Linked DNA regions of Homo sapiens. The protein of the gene in region 1 binds, or shares a complex with, the protein of each later gene. Each region holds a gene or a part of one and is shown on either strand. Other genes may lie near its edges.

Region 1 (3,581 bases):
ACAAAAAAATTAGCCCGGTGTGGTGGCCTGCGCCTGTAGTCCCAGCTACTCATGAGGCTAAGGCAGGAGAATTGCTTGAACCCGGGAGGCGGAGGTTGCAGTGTGCCGAGATCGCGCCATTGCACTTCAGCTTTGGGCAACAGAGCAAGACTCCGTCTCAGGAAAAAAAAAAAAAAAAAAAAAAAAGAGTGTCTCTTAAGCACAGCTAGGTTTTTGGTTTGTTTTTTTTTTAATCTCATAAAATCTCTGCTTTTTTTTTCTTTTATTGTGATACATAACATTTCCCATTTTAACCATTTTCAGGTATACAAATCAGTGGCATTTAGTACGTTCACATTGTGCAATGACCGCCAGAACTTGATCTCTGCTTCTCTGGCAATTTAGTTCATTTACGTTTATTATAGTTATTTACATATATATGATGGTTATTTATATATGTGTCTACATAATTAGTTTTTATCAAGATGGGGTCTTGCCCTGTTGCCCAGGATGGTCTCGAACTCCTGGGCTCGAGTAACCCTTCTGCCTGGGCCTCCTAAAGTGCTGGGATTACAGGCGTGAGCCACTGCGCCCAGCCTATTGTGGTTATCAATGCATTTATTCTTACCATTTTATGGTATCTTATACTTTCTGTTTATCCTCTTTATTTTAAATTTTGTAATAGCTTTATTGAGGTGTACATGACATACAATAACTGCACTTGTTTAAAGTTTTTTTTTTTTTTTTTTTTTTTGAGACAGAGTCTTGCACTGTCGCCCAGGCTGGAGTGCAGTGGTGCAATCTCGGCTCACTGCAAGCTCCACCTCCCGGGTTCACACCATTCTCCTGCCTCAGCCTCCTGAGTAGCTGGGACTACAGCCACCCGCCACCACGCCTGGCTAATTTTTTGTACTTTTAGTAGAGACAGGGTTTCACCATGTTAGCCAGGATGGTCTCGATCTCCTGACCTCGTGATCCACCCGCCTCGGCCTTCCACTAAGTGCTGGGATTACAGGCATGAGCCACCGCACCCAGCCTTAAAGTTAAATTTAATAAGTTGTGACATATGTTTACACCCATAGAACTCACCACAATCAAAACATAATATCCTAAAAATTTCACACCTAAACATTTCCACCTTCCCCTTTGTAATACTTCTCCCTGCCTCAGTTTCCTCACCCTATCCCTGGGCAACCACTAATTTGCTTTCTGTCACTAGGTAAGTTAGCATTTTCTAGAATTTTATGTAAATGGAATCAACGGTATATAATTTGGAGGGGGTAGTTTCTTTAATCATAATTATTTTGAAATTCATTCTGTCTTCTAAAGATTGGGCATCTCTAATTCCAAAGTCTGAAACTTCTGGAGCACCATAAGTGGACAATTCCACATCTGACCTCATGTGACAGGTTGCAGTCAAAACTTTGTTTCATGCACAAAATTATTTAAAATACTATGTAAAATTGCCATCAGGCTGTTTGTATAAGGTGTAGATGAAACACACAAATTTCATAGTTAGACTTGGAGCCCTTCCCAAGATACCCCATTATATATATGCAATTATTTGAAATTTGAAACACTTCTGGTTCTAAGCATTTCAGATAAGGGATATTCAGCCTGTATTTTATTTTTCTTTTATTTGTGTGTTTTTTGTTTTTGTTTTTGAGAAGGAGTCTCACTGTGTTGCCCCGGCTGGAATGCAGCGGTGCAATCCTGGCCCACTGCAACCTCTGCCTCCTGGGTTCAAGTGATTCTCAGGCCTCAGCCTCCTGGGTAGCTGGGACTACACGTGAGCACCACCACGCCCAGCTAATTTTTATATTTTTAGTAGAGATGAGGTTTCAGCATGTTGGCCAGGCTGGTCTTGAACTCCTGACCTTAGATGATTCGCTCGCCTCAGCCTCCCAGAGTACTGGGATTACAGGCATGAGCCACCACACCTAGCCTACATGTATTTTCTCATCCTCTTTTTTTTTTCCCCGTTTCTAGTTATATATATTTTCTTATTATTCATTTTGTTTTTTTCTGCTGGTTTGGGAGTTAGACGTGCTATGCTTTTAGAGGTTATTCTTGAATTTTTTTTTTTTTTTTTTTGAGACACTAGCCTGTTGCCGAGGCTAGAATGCAGTGAGTGGCGCAATCTCGGCTCACTGCAAGCTCCGCCTCCCGGGTTCACGCCATTCTCCTGCCTCAGCCTCCTGAGTAGCTGGGACTACAGGCACCTGCCACCATGCCCAGCTAAATTTTTTTGTATTTTTAGTAGAGACGGGGTTTCACTGTGTTAGCCAGGATGGTCTCGATCTCCTGACCTCGTGATCTGCCCACCTCAGCCTCCCAAAGTGCTGGAATTACAGGCGTGAACCACCGCACCCAGCCAAATTTTTTTTTGTTAACCTGTAAACTAACTTGTATACCTAATCAGAATAGTCTAAAATTAGTTGAATCAATGTTCTGAGGAAAACCCTTGAGAAAATAAAGTTAGAATTTCAAGTGTCAGAATCTTTTTGACATTGAGAGTTTGTGGCTTTGTAGTGTAGAAGAATAATTCACAGACACTATTTCACTTGTGTAACAAGGGAGACAGATTTTCAGATTAATTTCCAACCGAGCAAAAGCAGGATTTATATAGGAGAAAGAGGAACAAGGAGAGAGGGCAAAACCACAGAACAGTGGATTCTGTTTGCCCGTTTTTCTGTGTAAACTCTGATATTAACTCTCCTTGAGTATGCCACCCAGGGTTGGTGGATGCTCTAGAAAACACGATAGGCCCTCTGCCAGTAAGGGTTTTCAGCAACTCCAGATTCAGCCAGTCTAAATATACCCTTTCCATCATCAGCATTTCTCAGCCTTCATCTTTTGGTCAAAACAAGCTTGTAAAGGAGTGGGTTTATTCTCATGAGCTTCAGCCTCTTTGATGTGGGATAAGGCCATCTGTTGTCTTATGGTGATCTGAAGGTATTAGGGGGAAGTTCATCTATACCTGATGTCATGATTGACCTGTGAACTCTTTTTCTTTTTTTCTTTTTTTAGATGGAGTCTTGCTCTGTTGCCCAGGCTGGAGTGCAGTGGTGCAATCTCATCTCACTGCAACCTCCGCCTCCCTGGTTCAAGCAGTTCTCCTCAGCCTCCCAAGTAGCTGGGATTACAGGCACGTGCCACCACGCCTGGCTAATTTTTTGTATTTTTAGTAGAGACGGGGTTTCGCCGTGTTAGCCAGGATGGTCTCGATCTCCTTATCTCTTGATTGCCTGCCTCGGCTTCCCAAAGTGCTGGGATTACAGGCGTGAGCCACTGCGCCCAGCGACCTGTGAACTCTTACAGAGCTGCTGTCTACTTCTAAGAGTTACCTGATTCTGGAGGCGTTTTTTTGTTTTTGTTTTTGTTTTTTAAGTGAACCCCAGGATCTCTAGTGAGACTGAATGTCCGAGTTAGGATCCTAAGCAAGGGTATACATCTAGGGCTTTCCATCAGTAGTTGTGGTTGGGAAGGCATGGGAAAATGGTGTGGTCCTCTGCAGTGTAGTTAGGCCTGACTTCCGTTGGTGTCTCTCAATAATGAGTTTTTAGTCTCTTAACTATGTATTAAGTAGAGGTAATACTCGT
Region 2 (3,581 bases), on another chromosome or scaffold:
TGGGCCTCCCAAAGTGCTAGGATTACAGGCATGAGCCACCGCGCCCGGCAGTCCACTGCTATTTTCAAGGGAAAGGGAAAACATCGTCTTCTGAGTTCTCAGTTCTGGATTTCATTGACACCATTGCCCTAGTTCAGGACTCCATTCAGCATGCCTGCTGTTTGGCATTTGTCTCCTAACTGACCCCTCCATCTCTACCCCACCCCTGGATTTATCTCTGCCAGTCAATTGTCCAGTACACGGGGAGGGGAGGGTCAACCTCCCTACCCAGACCCTTCCTTTCACAAGATCAGCTGCCAGCTCCTGCACAGGAATCTCACCCAAGCTTGAGGTACTCAGATCCAGCCAGCAAAGCACAGCAGGTCCACCGGGCCAACTTGTAGCTGTTGTTCTTCAGCTCCGTGGCAATGACAGCCCCTCGCTGAGAGTCCAGCTTCTGACGCCAGTCAACGCCATTACAGTGCTGCAGGAGAGCCCCGTTAGAGAAACAGAAGCAAGCTCCAAATGCCCAAGGTGCTGGGACCTCCTCTGGCAGAGAAGGAACTCCCTAGTCTGCTTGCTTAGAAAGTGGGTAGGTACGCACTAAATCTTACCATTTAAGAGACAAAGACATAGTCCCTTCCCTTGCACAGCCTGCCGCACAGCAGTCACTCAACGACTTACAATTCCTCTCTTCTAAAAGCTCGCCTAGACAGGGAATGATGGATGGACACACACGGACACACACACACACACACACACTTTAGAAGTGTCATATAAACAGCAGAGCCAAGTGTTTACTATGTGTTGCGTGGTAAGGAAGGGCTTCACAGAGGACGTGTAACAGTGAGCCAAGTGGAGAATATTGGCTCAAGTGCAGGTGTAGCCAGGAGGTCTTGATCTGAGAGGCATGGTGGGATAGGAAAGACAGGCAGAGTTGGCCTTAGATGGGGGTGGAAGCCTGCAGTGGGTGCAAAGCTGAGTCTGACATTTTACATAAATGCACACACAGTAGAAAAGGACCCCAGAGAGATCCTCTTTTCTACCCATATCATTTGTAGACGTGGGAAGTTGGACCCAGAGTGAAATGACTGGTCAAAGGTCACATGACAGAGGTTCCCAAACTTTCTTGGTTCATGGCAAACACAGGGCAAAAGAAATACTCAAGAATTTCTTTTAAATTTTTTTTCTTTTTTTTTTTGAGACGGAGTTTTGCTCTTGTTGCCCAGGGTGGAGTGCAGTGGCACGATCTTGGCTCACTGCAACCTCCGCCTCCCGGGTTCAAGTGATTCTCCTACCTCAGCCTCCCTAGTAGTTGGGATTACAGGTGCCCGCCACCATGTCCAGCCAATTTTTGTATTTTTGGTAGATACGGGGTTTCATCATGTTGGCCAGGCTGGTCTCGAACTCCTGACCTCAGGTGATCCACTCGCCCCGGCCTCCCAAAGTGCTGGGATTACAGGCGTGAGCCACCGTGCCCGGCCAAGAATTCCTTTTATTTAGTTAGGGTCAAACCATGTATTAGTATTCTGACAAGATGTCTCTGTGTTTCCCTAAAAAATTTAAAATATCCTGCAGCACTCCTGTGAGTTTGCTGTGGCACATTTTTTGGAGATGGGGTCTCACTATGTTGCCCAAGCTGGTGAGTTCAGGATTTGAACTCATGAACCCAAGCGATTCTCCCACCTCAGGCTCCTGAGTAGCTAGGACTATAGGTGCATACTACTGCATACAGCTTGCTGGGGCATGTTAGAATTCTTCTCCCAATCTGCACTGCTGATGAAGCGTGTATTGGACAATTGACTGGCGGAGATAAATCAAATATAGAAGTTGGGTGGAGGTAGAGAAATCAGTTAGGAGACAAATGTCAAACAGGCATGATGAAATGGGGCCCTGAACTAGGGCAATTATCAGTGAAATCCAGGACAGATTCAGAAGACAGCAAAGCCTTCTATTTTGCTAACAGCAAAACAGAATAATGTAAAAAAGAAGTTGGAGATGTTGGAGGCTCAGAGCTTAGGTGGAAGAAAGACAATGCTGATGGACAGCTGGCCCAGAGGCAATGACGGGACTGGGGACACATGGAAGGGGAAGGTGTTTTAGCAGAAAAACAATGGGAAGTATAATAAATCAGAGTAGATTTGAGAAATCATTTTCAAAGAGTTCATGGTTGAGGCCTGGGATGGGCAGAATTCTAAGATGACCCCCAGTGACCCTTGCCCTTGCAGAGTCTCCTCCCCTTGACTACGGGCAGAACCTATGGCTAGGATCAAGTATCACCCCCATGATCATCCTACCTTGTATGTCAAAAGGGATTTTGCAGATGTAAGGCCGCAAATCAGTTTACCTTAATATACACTACCTGGCTGGGCTCACCCAACCGTATGAGTCTCTTAAATCTAGGTGTAGAGGTCGGAGACGGAGGAAGTCAGAGATCTGAAGCACAAGAAGGATCTGATGTGCTGTTGCTATCTTGGAGATGGAGGGGGCCATGTGACAAGGAATGCAGGTGGCCTCTAGGAGCCAAGAGAGGCTCCCAGCTGACAACTGGCAGGGGGATGGGGGCCTCAGTCATCTAACTGCAGGGAAATGAACTTTACCCACAATAAGAATGGGCTTGGAAGTGGCTTTTCTTTCAGAACCTCCAGATGAGAACTCAGTTCTATTTCTATTGACACCATGATTTCTGCCTTGTTTGGATTTGTGGCCCCACCCAAACTGCATGTCAAATTGTAAACTCCAATGTTGGAGGAGGAGCATGGTGGGAGGTGACTGGATCATGGGGGCAGACTTCCCCCTTTGGCACTATTCTTGTGGTAAGAGTATTCAAGAGATCTGGTTGTTTAAAAGTGTATACCAACCTCCCCCCTCTCTTTCTCCTGCTCTGGCCATGATGTGCCTGCTTCTCCTTTGCTTTCTGCCACCATTGCAAGTTTCCTGAGGTCTCCTCAGCCACGCTTCCTCTAGAGCCTGCAGAACTGTGAGCCAATTAAACCTCTTTTCTTTATAAATCACCCACTCTCAGGCATTTCTTTACAGCAGTGTGACAATGGACTAATACAAGGACCAAGCACACAGCACTGGACTTCTAACCTACAAAACCGTGAGCTAATAAATTGGTATTGTTAGGCCGGGTGCTGTGGCTCACGCCTGTAATCCCAGCACTTTGGGAGGCCGAGGCAGGCAGATCACCTGAGGCCGGGACTTCAAGACCAGTCTGACCAACATGGAGAAACCCCATCTCTACTAAAAATACAAAATTAGCTGGGTGTGGTGGTGCATGCCTATAATCCTAGCTACTCGGGAGGCTGAGGCAGGAGAATCGCTTGAGCCCGGGAGGTAGAGGTTGCAGTGAGCCGAGATCGCACCGTTGCACTCCAGCCTGGGCAACAAGAGCGAAACTCCGTTTCAGAAAAATAAAATAAAAAATAAAAGTAAAATACATAAATCGGTATTAAGTCATTAAGTTTCTGTTAATTTGTTATGGTGCGAAAGAAAACTAATACAAAGTTATATAATACAGAAGTATGTATGGCGAAGAGAGCTGTCCAGGTGACTCCACTGGGATCAAAAAGGAGGGGAGCCAGCAAAGACGACATGCA

Evidence for each region.
Region 2: EIF3CL (region 1) and EIF3D share a complex: the UniProt entries of both Homo sapiens proteins name them as parts of the eukaryotic translation initiation factor 3 (eIF-3) complex.

Annotation. Positions count from the first base shown.
Region 1 is NC_000016.10:28,393,820-28,397,400, reverse strand, and holds part of EIF3CL (eukaryotic translation initiation factor 3 subunit C-like protein), read left to right. Parts: intron 1-3,109; exon of another isoform or gene 3,110-3,127; intron 3,128-3,581. UniProt on the Homo sapiens protein: Component of the eukaryotic translation initiation factor 3 (eIF-3) complex, which is required for several steps in the initiation of protein synthesis.
Region 2 is NC_000022.11:36,512,140-36,515,720, forward strand, and holds part of EIF3D (eukaryotic translation initiation factor 3 subunit D), read right to left. Parts: intron 464-3,581; coding exon 321-463; intron 1-320. UniProt on the Homo sapiens protein: mRNA cap-binding component of the eukaryotic translation initiation factor 3 (eIF-3) complex, a complex required for several steps in the initiation of protein synthesis of a specialized repertoire of mRNAs.